Linked DNA regions of Homo sapiens. The protein of the gene in region 7 purifies or fractionates together with the protein of the main gene of each other region. This does not show direct contact. Each region holds a gene or a part of one and is shown on either strand. Other genes may lie near its edges. The genes, in order: PTPN2, TMEM68, VMA21, CUX1, TLCD4, SLC19A2 and TNFSF18.

Evidence for each region.
Region 1: the proteins of TNFSF18 (region 7) and PTPN2 purify together in Homo sapiens (affinity purification with mass spectrometry; one large-scale study listed by BioGRID and IntAct). This does not show direct contact.
Region 2: the proteins of TNFSF18 (region 7) and TMEM68 purify together in Homo sapiens (affinity purification with mass spectrometry; one large-scale study listed by BioGRID and IntAct). This does not show direct contact.
Region 3: the proteins of TNFSF18 (region 7) and VMA21 purify together in Homo sapiens (affinity purification with mass spectrometry; one large-scale study listed by BioGRID and IntAct). This does not show direct contact.
Region 4: the proteins of TNFSF18 (region 7) and CUX1 purify together in Homo sapiens (affinity purification with mass spectrometry, with the first as the bait; one large-scale study listed by BioGRID). This does not show direct contact.
Region 5: the proteins of TNFSF18 (region 7) and TLCD4 purify together in Homo sapiens (affinity purification with mass spectrometry; one large-scale study listed by BioGRID and IntAct). This does not show direct contact.
Region 6: the proteins of TNFSF18 (region 7) and SLC19A2 purify together in Homo sapiens (affinity purification with mass spectrometry; one large-scale study listed by BioGRID and IntAct). This does not show direct contact.

The regions. Positions count from the first base shown.
Region 1 is NC_000018.10:12,791,119-12,794,444, reverse strand, and holds the end of PTPN2 (tyrosine-protein phosphatase non-receptor type 2), read left to right. Parts: coding exon 1-167; 3' UTR 168-870; coding exon of another isoform or gene 871-922; 3' UTR 923-2,293; downstream 2,294-3,326. UniProt on the Homo sapiens protein: Non-receptor type tyrosine-specific phosphatase that dephosphorylates receptor protein tyrosine kinases including INSR, EGFR, CSF1R, PDGFR.
Region 2 is NC_000008.11:55,766,346-55,770,378, forward strand, and holds part of TMEM68 (DGAT1/2-independent enzyme synthesizing storage lipids), read right to left. Parts: intron 1-4,033. UniProt on the Homo sapiens protein: Catalytic subunit of the alternative triglyceride biosynthesis pathway, which mediates formation of triacylglycerol from diacylglycerol and membrane phospholipids.
Region 3 is NC_000023.11:151,399,673-151,403,705, forward strand, and holds part of VMA21 (vacuolar ATPase assembly integral membrane protein VMA21), read left to right. Parts: intron 1-3,958; coding exon 3,959-4,033. UniProt on the Homo sapiens protein: Required for the assembly of the V0 complex of the vacuolar ATPase (V-ATPase) in the endoplasmic reticulum.
Region 4 is NC_000007.14:101,820,222-101,824,254, reverse strand, and holds part of CUX1 (Homeobox protein cut-like 1), read right to left. Parts: intron 1-4,033. UniProt on the Homo sapiens protein: May be involved in intra-Golgi retrograde transport.
Region 5 is NC_000001.11:95,151,786-95,155,818, forward strand, and holds part of TLCD4 (TLC domain-containing protein 4), read left to right. Parts: intron 1-4,033.
Region 6 is NC_000001.11:169,475,692-169,479,724, reverse strand, and holds part of SLC19A2 (thiamine transporter 1), read left to right. Parts: intron 1-1,967; coding exon 1,968-2,570; intron 2,571-4,033. UniProt on the Homo sapiens protein: High-affinity transporter for the intake of thiamine. Mediates H(+)-dependent pyridoxine transport.
Region 7 is NC_000001.11:173,047,994-173,052,660, reverse strand, and holds the start of TNFSF18 (tumor necrosis factor ligand superfamily member 18), read left to right. Parts: upstream 1-1,719; 5' UTR 1,720-1,764; coding exon 1,765-1,920; intron 1,921-4,667. UniProt on the Homo sapiens protein: Cytokine that binds to TNFRSF18/AITR/GITR. Regulates T-cell responses. Can function as costimulator and lower the threshold for T-cell activation and T-cell proliferation. Important for interactions between activated T-lymphocytes and endothelial cells.

The DNA.
Region 1 (3,326 bases), on a different chromosome or scaffold from region 7:
CAGCTCAGAAGGTGCAGCAGATGAAACAGAGGCTAAATGAGAATGAACGAAAAAGAAAAAGGTGGTTATATTGGCAACCTATTCTCACTAAGATGGGGTTTATGTCAGTCATTTTGGTTGGCGCTTTTGTTGGCTGGACACTGTTTTTTCAGCAAAATGCCCTATAAACAATTAATTTTGCCCAGCAAGCTTCTGCACTAGTAACTGACAGTGCTACATTAATCATAGGGGTTTGTCTGCAGCAAACGCCTCATATCCCAAAAACGGTGCAGTAGAATAGACATCAACCAGATAAGTGATATTTACAGTCACAAGCCCAACATCTCAGGACTCTTGACTGCAGGTTCCTCTGAACCCCAAACTGTAAATGGCTGTCTAAAATAAAGACATTCATGTTTGTTAAAAACTGGTAAATTTTGCAACTGTATTCATACATGTCAAACACAGTATTTCACCTGACCAACATTGAGATATCCTTTATCACAGGATTTGTTTTTGGAGGCTATCTGGATTTTAACCTGCACTTGATATAAGCAATAAATATTGTGGTTTTATCTACGTTATTGGAAAGAAAATGACATTTAAATAATGTGTGTAATGTATAATGTACTATTGACATGGGCATCAACACTTTTATTCTTAAGCATTTCAGGGTAAATATATTTTATAAGTATCTATTTAATCTTTTGTAGTTAACTGTACTTTTTAAGAGCTCAATTTGAAAAATCTGTTACTAAAAAAATAAATTGTATGTCGATTGAATTGTACTGGATACATTTTCCATTTTTCTAAAGAGAAGTTTGATATGAGCAGTTAGAAGTTGGAATAAGCAATTTCTACTATATATTGCATTTCTTTTATGTTTTACAGTTTTCCCCATTTTAAAAAGAAAAGCAAACAAAGAAACAAAAGTTTTTCCTAAAAATATCTTTGAAGGAAAATTCTCCTTACTGGGATAGTCAGGTAAACAGTTGGTCAAGACTTTGTAAAGAAATTGGTTTCTGTAAATCCCATTATTGATATGTTTATTTTTCATGAAAATTTCAATGTAGTTGGGGTAGATTATGATTTAGGAAGCAAAAGTAAGAAGCAGCATTTTATGATTCATAATTTCAGTTTACTAGACTGAAGTTTTGAAGTAAACACTTTTCAGTTTCTTTCTACTTCAATAAATAGTATGATTATATGCAAACCTTACATTGTCATTTTAACTTAATGAATATTTTTTAAAGCAAACTGTTTAATGAATTTAACTGCTCATTTGAATGCTAGCTTTCCTCAGATTTCAACATTCCATTCAGTGTTTAATTTGTCTTACTTAAACTTGAAATTGTTGTTACAAATTTAATTGCTAGGAGGCATGGATAGCATACATTATTATGGATAGCATACCTTATTTCAGTGGTTTTCAAACTATGCTCATTGGATGTCCAGGTGGGTCAAGAGGTTACTTTCAACCACAGCATCTCTGCCTTGTCTCTTTATATGCCACATAAGATTTCTGCATAAGGCTTAAGTATTTTAAAGGGGGCAGTTATCATTTAAAAACAGTTTGGTCGGGCGCGGTGGCTCATGCCTGTAATCCCAGCACTTTGGGAGGCTGAAGTGGGCAGATCACCTGAGGTCAGGAGTTCAAGACCAGCCTGGCCAACGTGGTGAAACACCATCTCTACTAAAAATGCAAAAATTAGCTGGGCATGGTGGAGGGCACCTGTAATCTCAGCTACTCAGGAGGCTGAGGTAGGAGAATTGCTTGAACCCAGGAGATGGAGGTTGCAGTGAGCTGAGATCACGTCACTGCACTCCAGCCAGGGCGACAGAGCGAGACTCCATCTCAAAAGAAACAAACAAAAAAAACAGTTTGGGCCGGGTGTGGTGGCTCACGCTTGTAATCCCAGCACTTCGGAAGGCCAAGGCGGGCGGATCACGAGGTCAAGAGATGGAGACTGTCCTGGCCAACATGGTGAAATCCCTTCTTTACTAAAAATACAAAAATTATCTGGGCGTGGTGGTGCATGCCTGTAGTCCCAGCTCCTTGGGAGGCTAAGGCAGGAGAATCACTTGAACCCGGGAGGCAGAGGTTGCAGTGAGCCGAGATTGCACCACTGCACTCCAGCCTGGCAACAGAGCAAGACTTCGTCTCAAAAAAAAAAAAAAAAAAAGTTTGAAAACCATTGGTATAGATAGATATTTTGAATTGATTTGCATAGTCTCCTTGAATGTGTTAAATTATGTTGAAAGTATGAAAGCAGGATGTAGGTGGTACTACATATTAAATAAGATTTATATAACATGTGCCTGTGTCCTGATTCAGTATTACTGTGTCCTGTAACCTTGAAATGGAGAGGAGGTAAGAGGGACATTTTTTTATGTCTGTCTGCATTAAACCTGTGTTGAGGCATCCAAGACCCTTACATTTCAGGTTGTTATTGGTTTAAAACCTCTTTCCAGTTTGCATTGGTTTGTCTTTGCTAAATGCAGTATGTTTATGTTACTCTGCAAGTCACATACAGGTAGACCTTATGACATTTCCAGTTGAAACTAGGCTTGCTTTCGGTACACAGGTGAAGACTTGAGGAAGCCAGTGCCAGAGAGGACGTGCCTCACCCCTCAGCTGGCTGAATGCGCTTCATTGGCTTACGCTTTGCTTTCTGTATGCTTTCTGTCCTTCTGGGTGGTGTCGCATATATTTTTAAAACCACATTCAGTGTGATGAACACTTGTTGGTACACTTCTAAGGTTAGTCATCTTTCCTTCTCTGAGCAGATCCTTGAGAAGGGCATTGACAGTGGATGCTTTAAATAGTGTTCAGTTTTTACCAGTAATAATATTTTTTGGTGGATGTCATGAAAACACATGACATCGTGTTGTGCCCATGATAAAAAGTCCTGACTTTTTATTGAATGAGGTGTGCTGGTCAAAGAGACAGACGTGGCTGCCTTCTCTGGTAACAGCCAGAGGAAAAAGTTAGCAATTCTAGATGGGTTCTACAGCTTTAAAAAACTTGTTGTATCCTTAGGTCCTCATAATATTAAATATTTTCTAATTTTAACAGATTTTAAGAGTCAGATATATACTTTGACTTGAATGATGTAGTGTTGCTTAAGGAAGAAAAAATTATAAAAAAAATGTTTCTTTTATTTTCAGGAGTTTTTAATTCATATCTAGTTCATTTCCACTCATATCTATTTCTGCTAATAGATTGACAGCAACCTTTGGTTTAATGCTGTGTTCTCTAGCTACACCAACAAGTTATATATTCCTTTCCAATATTAACCAAGTATTTATTTTATGTTAGCCTATGACTGAGTTTTATCTATGCTTGC
Region 2 (4,033 bases), on a different chromosome or scaffold from region 7:
GCAACACTGTAGAGCTTTCTATGCACGCTTTTTTTTTTTTTTTTTTTTTGAGATGGAGTCTGGCTCTGTTGCCCAGGCTGGAGTGCAGTGGCGTGATCTCCACTCACTGCAATCTCCGCCTCCCGGGTTCACACCATTCTCCTGCCTCAGCCTCCCGAGTAGTTGGGACTAAAGGTGCCCGCCACCACGCCCGGCTAATTTTTTGTATTTTCAGTAGAGACAGGGTTTCACCATGTTAGCCAGGATGGTCTCGATCTCCTGAACTTGTGATCCGCCCGCCTCGGCCTCCCAAAGTGCTGGGATTACAGGCATGAGCCACCGTGCCCGGCCTCTATGCACGCTTTTATCTAAGTGAGATGGAGAAGGCATCAGAGGGCACTGAGCAGAAGGGTGAGGTTGCCTGGCTTGGGTTTTAAGTGGCTGCTGTGTTGAGAATATACTACACAGGCAGCAAATAGGAATATTTGCAATAAGTGATGAAAGTGGCTTACATACATGTGGCAGAGGGAAGGCAGTAGGAAATGGTCAGTTTCTGGATATATTTTGAAGATAATGCCAACAGGATTTGCTAATAAATTGACGTAGAATCTGAGATAATTATATGGTGTTTTGGCAACCTGAGTTTGTATCCTGGGAGGCTCTGCCACTTACCATGTGACCTAGCAAGTACTTAAATATCTTTCTGCCTCAGTTTCTTCATTTGTAAAATAAAAATAGCATCTACCTAATAAGACTATCGTGAAGATTACGTGTAAAAAAACCTAGCAAGTACTTAAATATCTTTCTGCCTCAGTTTCTTCATTTGTAAAATAAAAATAGCATCTACCTAATAAGACTATCGTGAAGATTACGTGTAAAAAAACTCTTAGAAGAGTGCTTTCTACCATATAAGCATTAACTATTGCTATCATCATTATTATTCACTTATAAGCATTAACTATTGCTTATAAGCATCTAAGCATAGTTAATGCTTATCACATATAAGCATTAACTATTGCTATCATCATTATTATTCGCTTGCTTGTGAAAAAATAAGAGTTGCAGGAAGAACAGGTTTGAGGGTGGGATGGAGATCAGGAATTCCATTTTAAACATGTTAAGTTTAAGATGTCTATTGGACATCCAAGTGAAGACATTAAGTAGGCAGCCGGACATCAGCAGTTTAGCAGGAAGATCAGGAGGAGGATACAGGGTATAAGTGGATGGCCCTGATATAAATCTAGGAATTGGTAGCATATAGACAATATTTAAAACCATGGAACTAGAGAAGATCCCTCCAGGGAACGAATATAGAGTAAAAAAGAATTTCTGGCCAGGCACAGTGGCTCACACCTGTAAACCCAGCACTTTGGGAGGCCGAGGCGGGAGGATCACCTGAGGTTAGGAGTTCGAGACCAGCCTGACCAACATGGAGAAACCCCGTCTCTACCAAAAATACAAAATTAGCCGGGCGTGGTGTCGCACGCCTATAGTCCCAACTACTTGGGAGGCTGAGGCAGGAGAATCGCTTGGACCTGGGAGGCGGAGGTGCAGTGAGCCGAGATCATGCCACTGCACTCCAGCCTGGGCAACAACAGCGAAACTCAGTCTCAAAAAAAAAAAAGAATTTCCAGGACTGAGTCTTGAGGCACCCAACATTTTAGAAGTTGGGAAGACAATGGCAAGCCAGCCTCCTCCTTGCAGAAGCAGTATCCTGGAAGTAAGAGCTTCAAGAAGGAAGGCATATTCTGCTGTTTTAAATGCTGTTGACAGGCCTAGTAAGGTAAGAGATCACTTCCTTCCTGTAGGAGACAGCTTTAAAAAAAAAAAAAAAATGATAATTGATCACTGGATTTTACAACACAAAGGAAACTGGCAAACCCTGGTAAGAGCTGTTTTTGTATAGTAGGAAACAAAACACTTTGGACAGGAGAGGACAGAAGCAGCTCCCCTTTACCCTTGAAGTTCAAGAATGAATGGGAGAAAATGAATTGGAAACAGCAAATATAAAAACTCACAAAGGAGGAAAGAAACAGGTGGGTATCTAGAAGGGAACACAGGTGAGTTGTTCCTTGCTGCTGCTGCTGCAGCTGTTGCTTTAAGACAGAGGCCAGGCATGGTAACTCACACCTGTAATCTCAGCACTTTGGGAGACTGAGGCAAGAGGATCGCTTGAAACCAGAAGTTCAAGACCAGCCAGGCAATATAGTAAAAACTCATCTCTAAAAAAAAAATTTAGGCCAGGTGCGGTGGCTCACACCTGTAATCCCAACACTTTGGGAGGCCAAGTAGGGGCAGATCACTTGAGGCCAGGAGTTCAAGACCAGCCTGGGCAACACAGTGAAACCCCATCTCTACTAAAAATGCAAAAATTAGCCAGGTGTGGTGATGCATTCCTGTAATCTCAGCTACTCGGGAGGCTGATGCACAAGAATGGCTTGAACCCAGGAGGTGGAGAGTGCAGTGAGCCGAGATCATGCCACTGCACTCCAGCCTGGACAACAGAGTGAGACTCTGCTCAAAAAGAAAAAAAAATTAAAAATTAGCCGGGCATGGTGACATGTACCAATGATCCCAGCCACTTGGGAGGCTGAAGGGGGAGGATCACTTGAGCCTGGGAGGTAGAAGCTGCAGTGAGTAATGATCAAGCCACTGCACTCCAGCCTCAGTGAAAGAGCAAGAGACTCTGTCTTTAAAAAAAAAAAAAAAAAAAAAAAGGGCCAGGCACAGTGGTTCATGCCTGTAATCCCAGCACTTTGGGAGGCCAAGGCGGGTGGATCACTTCAGGTCAGGAGTTTGAGACCAGCCTGGCCAACATGGTAATGCCGTCTCTACTAAAAACACAAAAATTAGCCAGGCATCATGGTGCATACCTGTAGTCTCAGCTACTTGGGAGGCTGAGGCACTAGAATTGCTTGAACCCGGGAGGCAGAGGTTATATAAGCCGAGATTCTGACAGTGCACTCCAGCCTCAGGGACAGAATGAGAATCCCATCTCAAAAAAAAAAAAAAAAAAAGATAGGAGAAAATACACCCATGTTCAATGTCAACGATAATTCATCAATGGGAGTGAGAAACAGATGATGTAGGAGAGGAGATAATTGTTAGAGCTCTGTCCTTGACTAGGCCAAAGGGGACAGGATACAATGTACAAGTGGATGGCCCTGAGAAGTTTGTGCCAGATACTATTCTAAATATATCAGTAAATAAAATAGTTATCTAAGAAAACATACGAAAAACACTTACTTTCTGGCACATAGTAGGCACCTAACAAATGCTGGCTAAATATACAACTGAACTGTGTTCGTCTAAAACTTTTTTTTTTTGAGACAGAGTCTCACTCTGTCACCCAGGCTGGACTGCAGTGGCTCGATTTCAGCTCACTGCAACCTCCACCTCCCAGGCTCAAGCAGTTCTCATACCTCAGCCTCCCGTGTAGCTGGGACTACAGGCAAGCACCACTGCACCCAGCTAATTTTTGTATTTTTAGTAGAGATGGGGTTTTGCCATGTTGGCCAGGCTTGTCTGGAACTCCTGGCCTCAAGTGATCCGCCCGCCTCCACCTTCCAAAGTGCTCGGATTGCAGGCGTGAGCCACCCTGCTTGGCCTCATCTAAATCTTTAACAGAAATCTGGATCAAAACAGTATCCTAAAACCTGCTACTAGAGAACTATCAGAGGAATTTGAATAAAATGCCTTTCAGTAGATAAAATGTAGCACTTACTTTTGATAATATGACAAAGTGTCTTTAAATCTCAATGCAACCCCTTAATTGTGCAGATAACAAAAAAAGTAAACACAGAAAGCCAAGTTTGCTTGCTTAAAATTACTAAATTAATTCAGTAAAAGCCAAGAACTAAAATTAAAATCTAGTCATCTTACCTCCTGGTCTGGCTTCCAACACACTTTCTTTGATATATCTCTCTTTTTCTCTCTTGACAGAAAGAAAATATTAAGATTGCAATTTCTGTCTTCCCTATACTTCTGCCTGGCCCTTCCCCTTCCCCCTGAATTTACCTGGGGGTGTAACTGACTTCTTATCACTTTATTTTAA
Region 3 (4,033 bases), on a different chromosome or scaffold from region 7:
TTAAGGGAGCTTATGTATATTAAATGAGAGTTGTATAGCTCAGTAATAACCAAAATGAGGCCTGCTAAAAGATGATCCATTTAAGTACCAAAAGAAAATATTAGAACTTTTTTTTTTACAGCAGTAAGCATTTAATTTCTCACACATGTGCAGAGCATGTGATCAAGAAATAGGCATGAGGTTAGTTATATTTAATATATATTTTACTCAATGTTTTTGTGGGTTTTTTGTTCAGGTTCTTTTTAAATAAATTTCATTGTGTATATTTGAGGTTCATAACATGATGTTATGGCATACATATAGTAAAATGATTACTATGGTGAAGCAGATTAATATATCTGTCATCTCACATACTTTTGTGTGTGTGTGACCAGAGGCAGCTAAAATCTTATTTACAAAAGTCCCTAATACCATGCAACTTTATTGCCTATAGTCCTCTTGTACATTAGATATCTCACTTGTTAATCCATATATCTACTGCTTTGTGTCCTTTGATGTATATCTTCCTATTTCCTCCCCTCCAGCCTCCCACCCCCACCGCCATGGTAACTACTGTTTTATTCTCTGTCCCTGTGTAGTTGACCGTTGACCTTTTTTTTTTTTTTTTAAAGATTCCACATATAAGTGAGCTCATGTAGTATTCGTCTTTCTGCGTTTGGCTTATTTTACTTAACATGTCTTCCAGGTCCATCCATGTTGTGGCAAATGGCAGATGTCCTCTTTTAAGGCTGAATAAAATATTCCCTTGTATATATACACTACGGTTTCTTTATTTTGTCTGTCTACATACACGTAGGTTGTTTTCAAATCTTGGCTATTGTGAATAATGCTGCAATGAACATGGAAGTGCAGATATTTTTACGAGGTAGTGATTTCATCTCCTTTGCTTATATTCCAGAAGAGAGATTGCTGGGCTGTGTGGTAGTTCTATTTTTAATTTCTTTAGGAACTGTTTTCCATAATGGCTGTACCAGTCTACATTTCCAGTCACAATGTAGTAGGGTTTCTTTTTCTCCACACTTTTACAAACATTTGTTATCACTTGCCTTTTTGATAATAGCTGTCCTTAGAAGTGTGAGGTTATATCTCATAGTGGTTTTGATTTGCATTTCCCTGATGATTTAGTGATGTTGAGCACATTTTCATTTATCTCTTGGCCATTTTTATGTCTTTGGAGAAATGTCTGTCCAGCTGTTGTCCATATTTTAATCAGGTGGTTTTTCTGCTGAGTTGTAAGAGTTCTTTATAAATTTTGGGGTATTAACCCCTTACAAGATAGGTGGTTCGCAAATATGTTTTCCTAGTCTGTAAGCTGCCTTTTCATTTTGTTGATTGTTTCCTTTGCAGTACAGAAGCTTTTTAGTTTGATGCAAGCCGCTTTATTTTTTCTTTTGTAGCCTGAGCTTTTGGTGTGATATCCAAAAAATCATTACTGAGGCCAATGTTAAGGACCTTTCCCTCTGTGTTCTTTTATGTCTTAAAACTTTATATCTTTATGTTTTAGTTATTTTATCCATTTTGGGTTGATTTTTGTTTATGGTGTAAGAGTCCAGTTTTTTTCTTTGCATGTAGAAATCCTGTTTTCCCAGTACCACTTATTGAAGGGACTGTCCTTTCCCCATTGTGTTCCTCTTAACACCCCTGTCGAAGATTAGTTGGCCATATATGTTTGGATTTATTTCTGGGCTCTATTCTGTTTCATTGTTATATGTTTCTGTTTTTATGCCAATACCATATTGTTTTGATTACTATAACTGTAATATTTTAAATCAGAAAGTGTGATGCTTACAACTTTTTCAATGTTGCTTTGGCTATTTGGGGCTTTTTGTGGTTCTGTATGATGAATTTTAGGATTGTTTTTCTATTTTAATGAAGAATGCTACTGTAATTTTGATAGAGATTGTGTTATATCTGTATGTTGCTTTGGGTGCTGTAGACATTTCAACAGTATTAATTCTTCCAATCCATGAACACAGGATATCTTTACATTTATTTGTGTCATCTTCAATTTCTTTCATCAGTGTTTTATACTTTTCAGTGTACAAGTCACTCATCGCCTTGGTTAAATTTATTCCTAAGTTTCTTTTTTTTTGAAATAGAGTCTTGCTCTGTCACCCAGGCCAGAGTAAAGTGCCCCAATCACTGCTCACTGCAGCCTTGACCTCTGGGGCTCAAACAATCCTCCCACTTCAGCCTCTTGAGTAGCTGAGATTACAGGCACGTGCCACCATGCCCAGCGAATTATCAAAATTTTTTTTTGTAGAGGTGGGGTTTTGCTGTGTTACCTAGGCTTGCGTCAAACTCCCGGCCTCAAGCCTCAGCCTTCCCAAAGTGCTGGGATTACAGGCATGAGCCACTGAGCCTGGCCCCTAAGTATTTTTTTTTAATGCTATTATAAATGAGATTGTTTTCTTGATTTCTTTTTCAGCTCAGTAAAGGATGCGGAAGTTTGTCAAGTGCTTTTTCTGCATCAACTGAGATGATCCTACTTGGTCATAATATATAATCTTTTTGATGTATTGGTTTTGTTTGTTTGTGACAGAGTCTTGCTCTGTTGCCCAGACTGGAGTGTGATTTTGGCTCATTGCAACCTCTGCCTCCCAGGATCAAGGGATTCTTGTGCCTTGGCCTCCCAAGTAGCTGGGACTATAGGCACACGCCACCACTCTCAGCTAATTTTTGTATTTTTAGTAGAGACTGGGTTTTGCCATGTTGGCCAGGCTGATCTCGAACTCCTGGCCTCAAGTGATCCGCCTGCCTCGGCCTCCCAAAGTGCTGGGATTACAGGTGTGAGCCACCACACCTGGCCTGATTATTGTTGAATTTGGTTTGAAAATATGTTATTGAGGAATTTTGCACCAGTGTTCATCAGTGATGTTGTCCTGTAGTTTTCTTGCTGTGTCTGTCTGGCTTAGGTATCAAGGTGATTGGAGCCTCTTAAAACGTGTTTGGAAGTATTCCCTCTAGCTCGATTTTTCACCCATAACAGAAGTTCCTATTCCAGCTGGGGAGGGCGCACTGGTCCGTTCGCCCTGCCTACCTCCTTCAGTGGTCTGGTGTCTGGTGCTGGTGGTCAGGGTTGCTGCACGGGCTCAGGGACTGGTGTGGCAGTGGCTTCCCTGGGCCAAAGCTCTGATCCCAGTGGGGGAGGGCACGCTGGTGCGTCGGCTCCACCTGGTTAGTTTGCTGGTCCACTGTCTGGTGCTGGAGGACAGGAGGCTGGCAGCTTTCCCAGATGCAAGCTCCGATTCCAGCGGGAGAGGGCACACTGCTCCACCTGTGGTGCCTGCCGAGTTCCCTGGTCTGGTGTCCGGTGCTGGTGGTCAGGGTTGCTGCGTGGGCTCAGGGACCAGTGTGACAGTGGCTTCCCTGGGCAAAAGCTCTGATTCCAGTGTGGGAGGGTGCACAGGTGTGTCTGCCTCGTTAGTTCCCTGGTCCACTGTCTCATGCTGGAGGACAGCAAGCTGGTCGCTTCCCGTGACGGAAGCTCTGATTCCAGCAAAAGAGGGCGCGCTGATCCACCCATGGTGCCTGCTGCGTTCCCAGCTCTGGTGTCTGGTGCTGGTGGACACGGTTGCCGCATGGGTTGGGCACTGGTGCCGCTGTCCGCCGTGGCTTCCCTGGGTAAAAGCTCCAGTTCCAGAGGCAGGGGCACTGAGTTTCTTCACTTAGTTTGTTCACCCAGCTTGTTGGCAGTTGATCTGAGGTGCCCTGACGCTTCGTCTTACACTGGATATGAATGACAGTCCCTAAAGGTGGTGTATAATCTTCATGTTCCAGCTCAAGAAATTCCCACTACCCACAGCTGGTTCTCTAGGATCTTCGGATTACGAGTCCCTGCCTGTGATCTTCCTCCTGCATAGCATCTCATTTGTGGATGTTTATAGTTTCAGGGACATAAGAGCGTTTGGATATGACTGTGCAGGTTCTGATTTTCTCTTTGTTTACTTTATTCCAGAAATGAAAGCTCATTAGCATCTACACTGAAGACGCTCCTGTTCTTCACAGCTTTAATGATCACTGTTCCTATTGG
Region 4 (4,033 bases), on a different chromosome or scaffold from region 7:
TAGCTGGGCGTGGTGGTGCACACCTGTAATCACAGCTACTCGGGGGGGCTGAGGCACGAGAATCACTTGAACCTGGGAGGTGGAGGTTGCGGTGAGCGGAGTTTGTGCCACTGCACTCCAGGCTGGGCGACAGAGTGAGACTCCGTCTCAAAAAATAAAATAAAAAGAGTTGATATTCGTTCTGTCTTAAAGATATTAAACTATGTTAGAGAAAACAAAATCATGGCAATTCATTAGGGAGAAAGCCCCAGTTTAAGAAAAATTGTCTTGCTTTTGGGGGGAAATGGAAAGAAGCTTTTGTGTTGCATTTTGTTTTTCGGTTTGGTTTGGTTTGGTTTTTTCATATGCTGGGTGGACAGGATCTGAATGTCTTACATTTAACAAAAAGCTGTCAACACCCAGATAAATTTTTAATGACGGTACGACAGGCATTCTATTTCTCACTGTTTCGCAATACTCACTTAAGAAAGAGCTAATTTGTCAATTTGTTTTTCCCTTAACCAAACTCGGAACACCTCATAACCCATGGTTTACTTGTTAAAAAAATGTTAACTGCATTTCCTTATTGAATAAACACAGCCCAATAGAAAGGTATCTATAAGAAAACAAGCAGTGTGCCAGCATCCACTCAAAGTAACCCCAAGAAAGAACAAGCCACTTCCCTGGTGTCTCAGAGTAAGCTCTGTTAATTTCCTGCTTTGTTAACTGCATCAATCACACACGGTCAAGACCATCCAGACCATCCAAGATCTCAAGCTTCGGCTGATGGAGTCGGCCAGGGCCCGGTCCACTCTGGGGGGTCGTGTGCTTTATAAAGGTTCGGACCCCTTATTGGGCTCATTTTCACAAAGGTTTTCATGAAAGGAAGCAGAACCAAGTCAGTTTCACTTACTAGGAAACTCCCGGCTGGCTAGTTCTTGAGTTGCTGGCAGTGTTAGTAAATCCCTAGGAGGAACACCACCATCCTTGGCTCCGTTCCAGTCACCTGTGTGATTATGTTTCTCTGTGTAGGAAGACCCCTGAGGGTGGGATCTGTACCAGTCCTGCTTGTGGGGTCAGCCAGGGATTGGGCGACGAACTTTGTGGCCACAGTACCTGCACTTCCCATGGCCCGAGGCTCTAATCAACACAAAATTTCTGCCAACGGTCCTGGGCCTCCTGCAGTTAGGAAATGCCGTTGGATTAAAATAAAGAAATTGACAATCTTTATTTTGTGCACTAACATCATCCTCTCTGAATTTAATTACAACAAAATTAAAATTATTTTTATTAGAGAGGCATTAGCTTTTTAAAGGGAAGGTTCTTGACAGGTTTTACAACAAATTAGATGTCTTTTTTTTTTTTTTTTCTGAGACAGAGTCTCGCTCTGTCACCCAGGCTGCATGCAGAGCAGTCACACGATCTCAGCTCACTGCAACCTCCACCTCCTGGGCTCAAGCAATTCTCATGCCTCAGCCTGCCGAGTATCTGGGATTATGGATATGCGCCACCACGCCAGGCTAATTTTTGTATTTTTAGTAGAGATGAGGTTTTGCCATGTTGGCCAGGCTGGTCTCGAACTTCTGACCTCAAGTGATCTGCCTGCCTTGGCCTCCCAAAGTGCTGGGATTACAGGCATGAGCCACCGTGCCCGGCCTTAGACGTCTTTCGAAAAGAATGGTTCACCCTCACTGTGTAATACCCGAATAGGGCAGCACAAATGCTTTTTAAAAATCTTTTAAGTCACAAGCCAGGTGCTTCAAAGCTGTTTCAGGCGCAGGACAAATGAGGGGAACGGCACAGGTTCCCCTCAGTCCTGGTTCATTTCCTGCAGGGAAACCTCCATCCCCGCCAAAGACCACTCTCCTCCATCAACCTTCTCAGAAGACAGCAGAGAAGCTGGACTGATTACAGCTCAGCAAATCCAAAACTGCTCCATACCAAACCTTAGCTGTCCTCAGCAGGAAAATCCAACACTGACACACCATCGAAACTTGGTTCTGAAACACATCCCAAAACCAGGGTGATCGACAGCTTTTCAAGACCACGCCTTGAAAACTGGAATGGGTCAAATAACACAGTCAATCCAGAGGGCCCTGCCATTAATATTTAAGAAAACATCGGCCGGGCACGGTGGCTCACGCCTGTAATCCCAGCACTTTGGGAGGCCGAGGCGGGCAGATCACGAGGTCAGGAGATCGAGACCATCCTGGCTAACACAGTGAAACCTCGTCTCAACTAAAAATAGAAAAAATTAGCCGGGCGTGGTGGCGGGCGCCTGTAGTCCCAGCTACTCCGGAGGCTGAGGCAGGAGAATGGCGTGAACCCGGGAGGCTCAGCTTGCAGTGAGCCGAGATCGCGCCACTGCACTCCAGCCTGGGCCACAGAACCAGACTACATCTCAAAAAAAAAAAAAAACAAAAAAACAAAAAAACTAGCCAGGCATGGTGGCGGGCGCCTATCGTCCCAGCTACTCGGGAGACTAAGGAAGGAGAATGGCCTGAACCCTGGAGGCGGAGCTTGCAGTGAGCCGAGATCGCACCACTGCACTCCAGCCTGGGCGACAGAACCACGTCTCAAAAAAAAAAAAAAAAAAAAAAAAAAGAAAAAAGAAAAAAAGAAAAGAAAAGAAAATAGGGGCCGGGCACGGTGGCTCACGCCTGTAATCCCAGCACTTCGGGAGGCCAAGGCGGGCGGATCACTAAGTGAGGAGATCGAGACCATCCGGGCTAACACGGTGAAACCCCGTCTCTACTAAAAATACAAAAAATTAGCCAGGCCTGGTGGCCAGCGCCTGTAGTCCCAGCTACTCGGGAGGCTGAGGCAGGAGAATGGTGTGAACCCGGGAGGCGGAGTTTGCAGTGAGCTGAGATAGTGCCTCTGCACTCCGGCCTGGGCGAAAGAGCGAGACTCTGTCTCAAAAAAAAAAAAAAAGAAAGAAAATATCCCCCTCACCAAGTTAATACTTTTATGGTTGCTGGTGGAGCTTATATTCTCTAAATGTAGAATTTTTTTGGGGGCGGGGGGGAGTATCTTCTCTCTGAATTCTATATCATTATTGGGGTATAATAAAATGTACCTACATGCTCTGGTCAGTCAAGGTTCATCAAGTCAGAAATCACAAATGAATTCACAAATTCTTTGCTCTAAAGTCATATAACAATGCAGATATTAAATTGCTTGTCTAACTATACCATTAGATTCCTTTTTCACTCCATTATCGGCACACACACACACTTCTCTCGGCATCCAGGCATTCACAGGTATCCAGTTCCTAAAGCGCCCAGCACGACTGCTTTGTCCAGGTAAGCAACAGTGGGACATAAGGAGAGGCTGTGGGGCCCCTCTTCAAATAGCTTCGACAAAACGAATGGCTATAAGTGAAAAGTGTCCCTGGGCTTTGCTATAAAAAGACTCAAACATGGGATTCCAAGAATTCCACCTGTTTCCAATTAGATACCAGAATTGCTTGAGTGTTTAAGCTACACTCGCTTGCTACTTACACAAAACAATTCTTCCGGGTTTTGTGAACATTTTAAATATGTTAAAATAAGATTAAGGGTCTGGTTTAAACAATCGGAGGCAGGGAAATTTCGGTGGAAACCAAAACTCTCTCTCTGCAGCGATAACGCGGGGCTTCAGACAAAACAAAAGGACAAGACAGACAAATTTCTGTCTTTGACAATTATAATAAAAGTCACTTTTCATAGAGCAATTACATTTTTTAAAGTTATGTATTCAATAATTTTAAATAGGTCTTAAGTAATTTCTACAATAACTCACGATCCTGGATCCTGTATATTTGAATAATGGTTAGAGTTGCCTTTTACATACCATTTGTGTTACAATTCGTCAGATATACCTGTCTGTGAAATTTACATGTGACAAATGTGTAAACTATTTGAAATGGAAGCACGGGTAGGAATTTAACCTACCTCTGTAGGATTCTTCATATGATGAATTTCTCTGCTTACGAAATGTATGAGTTTTCCCCTAACAAACGTGTCCTTCCTTCATTTCACTAAAAACAGACGTTCCTGGGGCATTACAGAGG
Region 5 (4,033 bases), about 78 Mb from region 7:
TTAATTCCATGTGCAATTACATATACATAATTACATTTAAGTAGGTTGGAGCAGTGGAGAAATCTTGCTCAGACTTTTTCAGAATTCCAAGACCAAGGTTAATAGAGGATTCTTCCAACAGATCTCAGGCAGTAAAGCATATTAAATTATATATCTAAAATTTCTACATATACATATGTAAACTAGCAACTTTATATTCCTTGTATGTTTGTTAGGTTTCTCTAGAATCAATTGTTTTTCAACATAAATATACCAACAAGCTCAAGGTAGATATTGCAACTGCAATTTTTTTCATAAAGATGGTTGCTTTTTTGATATGTCTATGTTCTGTTGTTATAGTTTAAAATTTGTCTTTTAAAGTGAATCTATTCATAGGGAAACAAAATAGGAAAAGTTAGATGAAATGATGAATGTTAACAGATGCTATAAGGATCCTATGTTATTTACCAATCTTACAGTAGTTACTCATTGACTATAAGAAGGTTTTTTTCTATGCAGTGAATTCCCAGGTCATTTTGTGCATTTTGTTATTCCAAGTAAAGCTAACAAAAATAATAATAATTATAATTTTGGGGGGGTAAATGATCATGAAATTCTTATCACTTATGCAATAATGAGAACTTGTATTTGGAAAGCACTTTGACTTAATACTTATGTAACCATTTAAGCTGTTTGCAGTAAGCTTTTTTTCTTAAATGATTTTGTTATTAGAACCAAAGTAAAACTTAAAGTGATGAATAGAAGCAAGTTCCCTGCAGTTTTAAAATGTATCCTTACTGAAGAAATAGTTGAAAAGTAAGATTCTTTGGAATTTAAGGTATTATAGGTTATATAATGTCTTGATTGCTATTTTTGTATCTTTCTACTATATTTACTGACGTTTTGAAATTCTCTGGCAAAGTAATTTAGAGCTTAATGAATCCTCTTCTGTCTATATAGAGAGGTACAAATCCTACAGCCTTTTTTCCTGATACTCATCTTTCACCCCTGGAGCAGGATACTAATTATCAAATAAACCTGACAAGCTGATCTCTTATTCTAAGAGAAATGAACACATTTATGCTTTAATCCTCAATTTTTAAGGACAAACTACCATCCTTTGTACACCCTTTCTGACTACATTGATAGCCTTCACTTTTTGTGTATGTGTTCCTTGTGAATCACTTCTTTCTCCAATTAAACCATGCCTTTAGATAATGAGTTAGAATATATTTGGAAAACATTTAAACTTGAAAATCATTCAATATGCATCAATTTCCAAGCCCACCATATTATTATTATTTATTTTCTTTTTTTTTTGAGATGGAGTCTTGCTCTGTCACCAGGCTGGAGTGCAGTGGTGTGATCCTGGCTGGGCAGAAGGGATAATGGGGAATTACTGTTTAATGGTACAGAGTTTCCATTTGGGAATATGGAAAGTTCTGGAGATGGATGGTGGTGATGGTTGTATAACAAAATGAATGTACTTAATGCCACTGAATTGTACACTTAAAAGTTGTCAAAAGGGTAAATTTTATGTCATATATATTTTGCCATAATAAAAATGTTAAAGCAAGCTTATGAGATAACTGAAACAAAGTTAGGAAGGAGAACTAATAACATATTGGACAATGTTATTACATTTTTAGAAAGGCTTCATCCTAACTATAAACTGAAACAAATGGGTGGAACTTAATAGTGATAAATGTTAAGTTTTGCATTTAGGTTCAACGATGCATAAGGATAAAGAATGACCTGGAGGTGGTAGATGATTGCATCTCAGTTATGCCAATTTATCACATCTGCTAAAACAGAAAGCTTTTTCAAATTTAGATTCTATTAGAGGAGGCCTGGTATCCAATTCACACGTAGTTTGCCCAGTCAGACCACATCCAAGACCATCATCATCTGAAGTCCCTAAACTTGCATGTATCTGGAAGAGAGCTGCTAGTTAACTGTAGAGAGGAGATATTAGATTAGGTAGCTATTGTCTTATAACAAACAATTGAAGGACCTGGAGATGTCAGCCTAGAAAAGCTAAGAACTATAAGGACATGATGGCCTTGAAATGTCCCTGGAAATGTGAAAGGACTACTAAGTGGAAGGGGGAGTAGACTTATTCTGGATTGATTCTGATGTTGGGACTAGGACCAATGGGGTGGTAAAGAGAGGTAGGGGAGACTTCTATTTTATGGAAGAAAGACATCCTCAGTGATTGGAAGATTATCACAATGGAAAGGCCTTTTAAAGTGGCTATTCTACCATAAGATAGCTTTAGTCAGATAGATATAAAAGTAGATACAATCAGCAGAAGCTTTAGGTAGGAGCTTGCACTAAATAATCTTTAAGGTTCTATTCTAATTCTGAGATTCTGTGATGCACCTGTTTTGTTGAAATGATTTGATTTAGTTCTGATGCAAGAGAACTAGACAATGGGGGAATTAACAATAAGCTAAGTTATGTCACCAAGTTCTTAAGTAACCCTAGGAGGAAGAGGTGAAAGCAGCTGGCCTGCCAATCCATTCACTTCCTTGGGGGACAGGAGGGGAGAAAAAGAAGGCACGTGGCCCAGTCTAATCTCCTTGTCAACAGGACTTAGGATAAATTGAGTACTGATGTTTGTTAGGAAGAAGAAACATTAACTCTGAAATGCCCTTAGCAGTGTGTCCCTGGGTAAGGATTACCTATAGTAAAGAGAACCCAGTATCTATAAGGCACAGCTCATTGGAGAAGGTCATGTAGGCACACAGCAAGGAAATAAATAACTGGGTTGCCAGTGGCCCTTGATGTCCCAGACCTCTCTCTGCTTCATTTGAATTATTTGATGGTCTCTATCTTTGTAACATTTAGTAGAGCTTAATGCTAGGTAGGAACACTGTTTCACATGAGTCTGATTTGGCAGTCCAGTCCTGTGTGTTAGCTCAAACCTTCATCTCTGTCTTATAAGCAAATAATCAAAAACCTTGAATGATTACAATTAAGCAAATAATTATTAAACATAGTAATAGATTTTGTTTCCAAACCTCAATTCTAGGTTGATGGTACCCTGAAACGGTTTCCATTAATAGGTAATAGACTGACCCAGAGTCTCAAGCACAATTGAAATGTGCTTGAGACTCTGGGTCAGTCTATTACCTGTTAAAAAATGCCCCATCATTGCCACTATAGAACACGGTCACGTTTTTACACAGGATTCCAATTTGGGATGCCCAGAACTTATTTCCTACCAACATATAGTCGTAGTGTAGTGTAGTGCAGTGCAGTGCAGTGTAGTGTAGTATAGTAGGGAAAGGGTGCCCATTTCTGTCCAGGCCTTTGGTGGTAGAACAGTCAGTATTTAGTACCATACTAGCAGTAGTAGGTGCATAATTTAGTTCTCTTTTCCCCCCCACCTTATAAACCTCTGGTCTTAGCCACTCTTAGCTGGTAGAAAAATTTCCCATAGTAAGAAAATCCAGACTTCCATAATCGCTTGCTAAAAGGAGAATTTTCTTTTAAGCTGCGGAAGGGATCAGAAAAATCCTGTTTTGTTTCCCCTCACAGTCATGCAGAGGCCATGGCAAATGTAGATTTTACTCTATGCAAAGCTCCTTAAAGGTAGATGACAGAGTAGAGACACCACACTAACCATAAATAACTTGTGAGTTTTGCCATAATTTACCAACAATAAAGTATCAGAATTTGTAATTATTTAAAAATATTATAGAAAGATTTAATCCTATCCCTTTAATAGCATCTATCTCATTTGTATTTTAGTAGGTTTTCTTGAATAGGAGAGAAAAGGATAAAGTAACAAGGAATTATGCATAACCTGAATCTTATCTAATGGCCACCTATGCTGATGGACGTATGTGTCACATGTGATGCTATCTGTCATTGGATTAAATGGGCCCAGAGTCATTGATATATTGACGGGTACAGGATCAGAAAATATAGACTCAAGATTACTGAAGCATAGTTCTGCACCCCAGTGTGACTCACAGAGGTTTTTTTTTTTTTTTTAAGATTTTTTTATTTTTCTTTTTTTCCTACTGGCAGGATCAACCAGGTATTA
Region 6 (4,033 bases), 3.6 Mb from region 7:
TGAGGCCACTGACAAAAGGAAGGAAAAATCTCCTACAGTGATTGTTGTTGGAAGAATGGGAATGATAGCTCAATTAATTTAGTTAATTCATACTGCCCCAGATGTCCTTGTCAGCTTGTCCTCTAGTCTTCAGACTTTGTGAATAAATCAGGTGGAGTAAGTAATTTACATGTTGTGTCTCATTTACTTTTTGCAACAAACAACCGCCCTTTACTGATAATGGAGATTAAGGCTAAGGGGAACTAAAAGAATGTTGTCTACAATCACACAGCAAGTGATGGAACTGAAATTCCTGTTGGGGTCTTTCTGGTTTAAAGTTTATTTTAAAGATCATTTCTACTATATCCCAATTTTAAAATATGCATTAGAAAGAAAACAGCAAAAACTTCTTTTTTCTATTTAAAAACAAGCAAAAAGAAGGACATAAAAGTTGCCTATATTCCTGCCATCTAGAGAGACTTAATTCTGTCAAGACTGTAGGACACATTGACCATCTTTATTTGTTCCTCTGCCCCAAAAGAAACAAAACTTAAAGTCAGAGAAGCTTAATGAAACAGTAGGATAAAGGCTCCCTATCTTGTGTCTAGAAGTAAGAATTGACAGTGATTCCGTTTTCAAAGCATTTATTGAATAGTATCTTCCAAACAGTATGCTGGCTTTTAGACAGGTTATACAGGTGAATGTAGGGGTCTATCCTTAAAAAGCCTATAAGGCAGTTGTTCTCAACTCTGGCTCATTTAAAACTCTATTGGGAAGTTTTTAGAAAATATCTGTGGCTGGGCATTTTTTTTTTTTAAAGAGACAGAGTCTTGCTCTGTCATACAGACTGGAGTGTAGTGGTGTGATCATAAGTCACTGCAGCCCCAAACTCCTGGGCTCAAGCAATTCTCCCACCTCAGCCTCCTGAGTAGCAGCCATAGGCATGTGCCACAACGCTTGGCTAACACATTTTTTTAAAGCTTCTTAGGAGATGCAGCCATGGTGAAGAGCCAGTATTATGAATTAATTGGGGAAACTGATGCATATAGATCAGTATTAGGAGAGTTTGAGGCTAGGCCAGATGGCTCACATGTCTGTAATCCCAGCAGTTTGGGAGGCTGAGGCTGGTGGATTGCTTTGAGCCCAGGAGTTTGAGACCAGCCTGGGTAACGTGGTGAAACCCTATCTCTACCAAAAAAAAAAAAAAAAAAAAAAAAAAAAATTAGCTGGTTGTGGTAGTACAGGCCTGTAGTCCCAGCTACTGGGGAGGCTGAGGTGGAAGGATCACCTGAGCCTCACCTGAGGCGGAGGTTGCAGTGAACCATGATTCTGCCACTGCATTCCAGCCTAGGTGACAGAGGGAGACCCTGTCTCAAAAAAACAAAAAACAAAACCAAAAAAAAAAAAAGGGTTTGAATGTTGTAATACAAGTACTTTTGGCTTCCGCAAAGTCTTTCTGAATAAGGAAGTCTTTGAACTAGGCCTTGATTAATGGGAAGAATTTATTAGGAAAAAGATGATGGTATTGGGGATAGGAAAGGATATTTCAGGCTGGGCGAGGTGGCTCACCCTTGTAATCCTAGCGCTTTGGGAGGCTCCTCATTTGAGGTCAGGAGTTTGAGACCAGCCTGGCCAACATGGTGAAACCCCACCTCTACTAAAAATACAAAAATTAGCCAGGCGTGATGGTGGGTCCCTGTAATCTCAGCTATTCGGGAGGCTGAGGCAGGAGAATCACTTGAACCTGGGAGGCAGAGGTTGCAGTGAGCCAAGATCGTACCACTGCACTCCAGCCTGGGCGCAGAACAAGACTCCATCTCAAACAAAAAAGAGAGAAAAGACATTTTCAAAGTTATCTGAACTGCTGTTGTCAAGGTTGAGATCTTTGAGGTATTTGTAGGTTGTTTTTTATGAATAAATTCTTTATGAGTATTCCAGGTCCTTTCATCACTAATGTTTTTTGTTTTTTTTTTTTCTCTTTCTACCAGGTCTTCAATGAAATTTATCCAGTATGGACTTACTCTTACCTGGTGCTACTGTTTCCTGTGTTCCTTGCCACAGACTACCTCCGTTATAAACCTGTTGTTCTACTGCAGGGGCTCAGCCTTATTGTTACATGGTTTATGCTGCTCTATGCCCAGGGACTGCTGGCCATTCAATTTCTAGAATTTTTTTATGGCATCGCCACAGCCACTGAAATTGCCTATTACTCTTATATCTACAGTGTGGTGGACCTGGGCATGTACCAGAAAGTCACAAGTTACTGTCGAAGTGCCACTTTGGTGGGCTTTACAGTGGGCTCTGTCCTAGGGCAAATCCTTGTCTCAGTGGCAGGCTGGTCGCTGTTCAGCCTGAATGTCATCTCTCTTACCTGTGTTTCAGTGGCTTTTGCTGTGGCCTGGTTTTTACCTATGCCACAGAAGAGCCTCTTCTTTCACCACATTCCTTCTACCTGCCAGAGAGTGAATGGCATCAAGGTACAAAATGGTGGCATTGTTACTGACACCCCAGCTTCTAACCACCTTCCTGGCTGGGAGGACATTGAGTCAAAAATCCCTCTAAATATGGAGGAGCCTCCCGTGGAGGAACCGGTAAGCTCAGCCTTAAATATCTTGTAATTGCTACTATGGGGGCTGGACCCGTGGTGAAAAAAACAGCAAACTCCCTCTTGGTAGATCTTGTATTTATTTGGATTCATGTTTTATCCTGAGTTGGTTTATTGCTTTATTCATTCATTCATTCATTCATTCAAGCTATGGTTTATTTATATTAGGGATGACACATTTATTTTTTCCTGGAGTGCGTGACCTCCAAAGTCAGACTGATACAGCATTATATTGTTCATGTCAGAGATGCCTTGGATTGCAAGGGCTGTGTCTTCATCTTTTGAGTGTTTGGCATATAAATAAAGCACTCAGAAAATTGTTGCTAAATGAGTAGATGAAATGATTCTAATAAATGATTAAGTATCTACTTCTAGTTTCTGAATTGAAGCCCAAATTATTATTATTATTATTATTATTTTTGAGACAGAGTCTTGCTCTATTGCTGAGGCTGGAGAACAGTGGTGCGATCTCGATTCACTGCAACCTCCGCCTCCAGAGTTCAAGCAGTTCTCCTGCCCCAGCCTCTCCCTAGTAGCTGGGATTATGGGCGCTCGCCACCACGCCCAGCTAATTTTTGTATTTTAGTAGAGACGGGGTTTCATCATGTGGGCCAGGCTGGTCTCGAACTCCTGACCTCAAGCAGTCCACCAGCCTCAGCCTCCCAAAGTGCTGGGATTACAGGCGTGAGCCACCGCACCCAGTCATGAAGCCCACAGTATTTAAGGGTAAGAAGTTAATTTCCTCTTCTGTGCTAGAAGGGATATCTGTTATTTATTTTTCAAATGACAATTTGCTGAAGTGAAGTAGTAATGAATAATACAGACGAAGAGATCACAAGAGGACAGTTTGAGGTGGTGATGGAATAAATAGTAAAAGTGTGTTATGAAGCTGTCTCTTGGAAGAGAGAGGTATGGCATTAAAATAATTTATCCATCTGTTCTGTCTAGCCAGGAAGATGAATTCCTTTCCCTAGACACCCACCCTTTTTTTTTTTTAAATATTCAAGTGTTTTTTTTGTTTCTATTAGGTTATAAGCTGTGAGGAACAAAGTTAATTCCAGCCACACTGTAGTCTTAGTTTTCCTGGGACATGTTTGGAAATAAGCCTATTAACATTCCAGCTTTGTAGGTGGCCTCAGTCGGACTGAGCTCCATAAGCTTTGTAGGCTGGCTGATAATAAAGAACCATTATGAGTAAAGTCTTTCATTCTCTACTGAGAGTTAACTGAATTGTTTAAATGTGGCATCTAATGTCCTCATTGAAAATTACTCTCTTTTCTCTATCCCCGTTCTTCAGCTCTCAAATTACTACTTGAAATTTAGGTTATCATCCCAGAGAGCCTGGGTAGACTTGTAGAGCCTGGGCAACCCTCATCATGAAACTCACCTTGATTACCAGGGCACCTGTGAGCACTTTTTGTCAGAATGACCAAGGATTAAGTGGCAATG
Region 7 (4,667 bases):
TAAGTTCTGTGCTTGTGTATATGAATTCCAGATCTGATGCAAGTGCAAAGGTTATGGGATCAAGGCATCAGTCTTTTTCTAGAGTAAGTTTATTCTTTATCCCTGCATTGCAGCATCTAAGTACAGAGCCACAAAAACATTTGTTGTGTTGAAAAATCATTTTTGTGTAACTGGTCTTTTAAGAAGTAGTTTATTGAACAAGGTAAAATAGGGCCCAAATTAAAATTTTGACAGTTCAGAGAGAAATATTGCTAATAATATTGTAAATAGTGCAATATTAAGACAAAATGGTTGGATTACAAAGCAGTATCTGTGGGCTTGAGTTTTCACTCCATCATTAACCAGCCAGCAGTGATTTGAGACACTACTCACACCCTCTTGTCCTTAGTTTCCTTTTTTTGTAAAGGAGGATGTTAAATCTCTGGACTTTTTTCTAATTTATAAATCGTCAATTCTCTCTTAGATTAAAAAATAGGTTTTCCAAAATACTTTCATTGTACTTCCTTTTGTTTAAGTAAACTTTAGGTGAATTTTATCTTGTGGGAAAGATAAAGAATGTTCATTCTTTTCTAGGATTTAATAATTGAATTAAACTTCACTACATCGCTAAAGAGGGTAGAGAAGAGATAATCTAACATTTATGGAATGCATAAACTTTTCACCTTCATTTCATTCTCCACAAAAGCATTATAAAGTGAAAATTTTCTCCATTTTACAGTGAAGGAAACTGAAGCTCAGAGAACTCAAGTAACATGCCTAAGGCCACAGAGCAGGTAGGAACTGGGCAGTGCCAGCCTCTGCTCTTGAGGTCTGTCTGATTTAAAAGCCTGTGTGACTGAGGTCCATAGAACCAGGAGACTTCCTCAATTTTGTAGTAAACCCATATTTTTGGGCCCAGGAAGAAAACCCAAGGTTTTTTTTTTTTTTTTTTTGGAATAGAGTATAAGCTCTGGCTGAGGGCAGGATGCAGGAAAATATCCTTCTGTAAAATAACTTCTTATGCCAGAACTAGATTATCAGAGTTTAAAAATGATGAAATATAAAATTGAGCTTGTTGTATTTACAATTTTTTATTAAATTCTTGTAATACACTTGATATTTTCTAGAGACTCAGAATGAACGCATTCTATACACTAGAAATTGATGAAACATTTTTGTGAGTATAGATTTTATTTTTCCAGGTTTACTGAAGTATAATTGACAAATAAAAATTGTGGGTATTTAAGGTAAACAAGATGATGACTTGATTAAAACTCTATTTTTTCCAAACTAGAGATCCTAGCCTCTCCAACTTCCTAACACTCTGCCGCTCATGTACATGATATCTGGAGTATGGTAGGGGGATTAATCTCAAACTTTATTTTTTCTTATAAAAAGTGATTTTCTTATCTAGAAATAATCTGGAATACTTTCTTAGATGAGAGCACACCACTTTATTCTCCCAAGCCTCCTCTACACGTGCACTGTACTGCCGTTTGATTTAGGAAAGAAATTTTTTTCCCCTCTGAACTTCCCTTGTGCTTTTTTTTTTATGTTCTGAGTTTGTGTTGGCTTTCAGCCTTCCGTTCCTTTTGTTGTATTTGATCTGGTGCCAAATGAGAGTCAGCACTTAAGTTATAAGTATCATTTTCTAACACAGTGACAGAAGGAAAACTCCGCCTTCCACACCCACTACTAATTACCATATTGCTACAAAACATGACATTGCATCCTTCACCCATCACTTGTGAATTTTTGTTTTCCACAGCTCTCATTTCTCCAAAAATGTGTTTGAGCCACTTGGAAAATATGCCTTTAAGCCATTCAAGAACTCAAGGAGCTCAGAGATCATCCTGGAAGCTGTGGCTCTTTTGCTCAATAGTTATGTTGCTATTTCTTTGCTCCTTCAGTTGGCTAATCTTTATTTTTCTCCAATTAGAGGTAAGGAGGCAATTGTACCTAAGGTTACTATTTGCTATAATCCTCTATTTATTTGTTTTTCTAGTTGTTATCATTGTCACTCAGTATTGTTAGCAATAGTTGGAAGGAAGAGATGTGTATACATAATGTAAATACAATTCTAATATTGTCATGACATGGCGTTTGAAGTTTATCTAAAGGTTTTGAGATAAAAGGTATCAGAAAATGCTAAATGTTAGCTGCAGAACTCTGTTAGATAGAGAGAACTGGTTAAGCCAATTGACAGGGGCCTGTGGAGTATTTTTCCTTCCCTCTGCTATAGCTCTTGGTGGAATAAAAAAGGTAAAAATATGAATGAATATCAAGGAATGGGATGCAAGCTATAGTCTTATTTATGGAAAAGACTTAAAAAAATAGTGAAAGACAGGATTAAGTAAATGACAGGTGGTTTGTGTGTCTTTGAGGAGGGAAGTGGCCCTGAGCTAGGTGTAAGAAGATCTGGATTCTGGTTCTGGGTCTCCTAATAACCAGCTGTATAAATTTGATAAAGACATTTAATCTCTCTAGTTTGCAGCTTCTTTATCTAAAAAAACTGGTGGTAGGGGAATGGATTTATTATGATGTTTCTTCTAGCTATAAAATGTCATGATCAAGAATTTATTTAAGGGTAGTATGAAGAATAAATGCCTAAGTCACTCAAAAGCAGGGAACAATGACTTTAGATTGAGTTGATCAGGGAAGACTTCATGGAGGAATGAGAAAGCCCATATCTATTTGGGAAGCCCCTGATGCTTGTCAGGAATTTCCCATTGAGATGCAGGCCAAGCTGTGGGCCTAGAGAATGGGATGGTACACTGGGAATGGAGATTAGTTTTGTTCTTTACTAAAAAATCTTTCCTCACAGTTAACTACGTAGCACTGATCAAAAAGAAAATAAGAAATGCTTTATTTATTTCAGGATTTAGCCTATTTCTGGCTAAATTTGAAGACTCTAAGTTTTGGGGAGAATAAAGTGGCATATGTCCATCTGAGAAAGAGTTGAAATGTGACTGCAGAAACACTTTTCTTAAGGGAACTGACCAGCAAAGATTTCAAAGATATAGTTCTACCACTTAAGATAAGTAAAAGTAATTGAGAAAAGATGCAGGAGGAAGCAGTCCCCTATTGATATTAATTTAGAGTAGGTATAGCTTTGGCCAATTTTTCCACAGTAGCCCATTAATTTGTATTCCATAACTGTATACAAGGCTTATGTGCAACAGAGGCATTTCTAATTACAACCCTGCTCTCTCAAGAAATGTATGAAGCAGAAGTGTGAACTTTCTGGGTCAGTGAAGTTGAAAGAAAGAATTGTCAGAAATTCTTAGTGTCTAGATTTCTGAAGAAGAGGAAGGGTGAGAATAGCAATAACTTAAATTTGGAAGTGCTTCTTTCTTCTAAAAATTATAAGATTAATTAGCCAGATAACCCTGAAGAACACTGAATATAAGCATCATCAGTTCCTACATATGACTCAGGAATGAATACACAGAAGCCTTTCCCAAAGGCACCCAGCAGTTCTTGCAAAGGGAAAGAGAAAGTCTAATAATGCCAGATCATCTGGGACACCTCTCTTCAGAATCAAACTGGATTAATCCCATGTGTTTGAGCTCTGATTCTGGTTTCTCTCTCCTAGATCCAGTTTCTCAATGAAATGTTCTACCTCTAAAGATAACCCAGAGTTTGTTTCAAATTTGGGGAAGTATAAAATGTTTTTAGAATATTGTTCTGACAGGACACTTGCAGGATTTGTTTCTATGGGAAAAGCCAGTGGCCTGGCCAACCATACATGATATTAGCTTCTGCATTTCACTTTCCACTTACCTGTACTTCCCTTTCCCTATTGGCCACAAATAAATATCTCTGGAAAAGAAGTCTGAGAGGCTGGCAGATAGTGATTCATTATGATGTGGCCACTTCCACATTGTCACAATACCCATGAACCGTGAAGTTTTATTTTGGTCTCCACTCTAGTTTTTACATACAAAGTCCCACTTTCCAGATTGTCTAGACACTACTTTAAAAAGTGTACACTTAAAAGAAAGTGTAACACTTTAAAAAGTGTTAGATGGGAAGCTTGGCTCCTTGGGTCAATTTTTTTCTTTTTTTCTCTCTTCTTTGAGAAAATATTTAACTAAAAGGATAGCTGTGAGTCCAAGGAGTTTGGTCAATCCCTCAGTGAAAATAATCTCACAGGAATTATCACTAAGAAATCAAATGTTCAGCAGAGTCTGAACTTCAGCAAAATGAAGGATACTTTCAGAAGGGGAAGTTGTACTTATACTTAAAAGCAGAGCAGATTTTATTTTCACTGATGATTTGATTAGGGTTGGTTTGGAGAGAGAATGATTGTTTTGGCCATTTTGAGCCGAACTACGTAAATCTAGCCTTAAATCAAGAAGAGGTTACAAAAGCAACTGATCCTTCTAAGCAAAAATAACGAACCCATATGTGTCTTTAAAAGTGGGTATTTACTACTTCCAAACATCAGCAGAATTATAAATAGAAACTTACCCCACAGAGTGGTAGAGGTGAGAGTGTTGACCCAGACAGGCTGGGTGTAGATCTCATTCTTGCCTTTTATTGGCTGCATGACCTTAGGCTAGTTACTTAATCCCTCTCATCCTCATTTCCTCATCTGCAAAATGAGCAACCTAATTTTTGTAGAGTTGTGCTAAGGATTAATGAGACAGTAGAGTATCTGACATAAAGTAGCTCCCAGTAGAGGG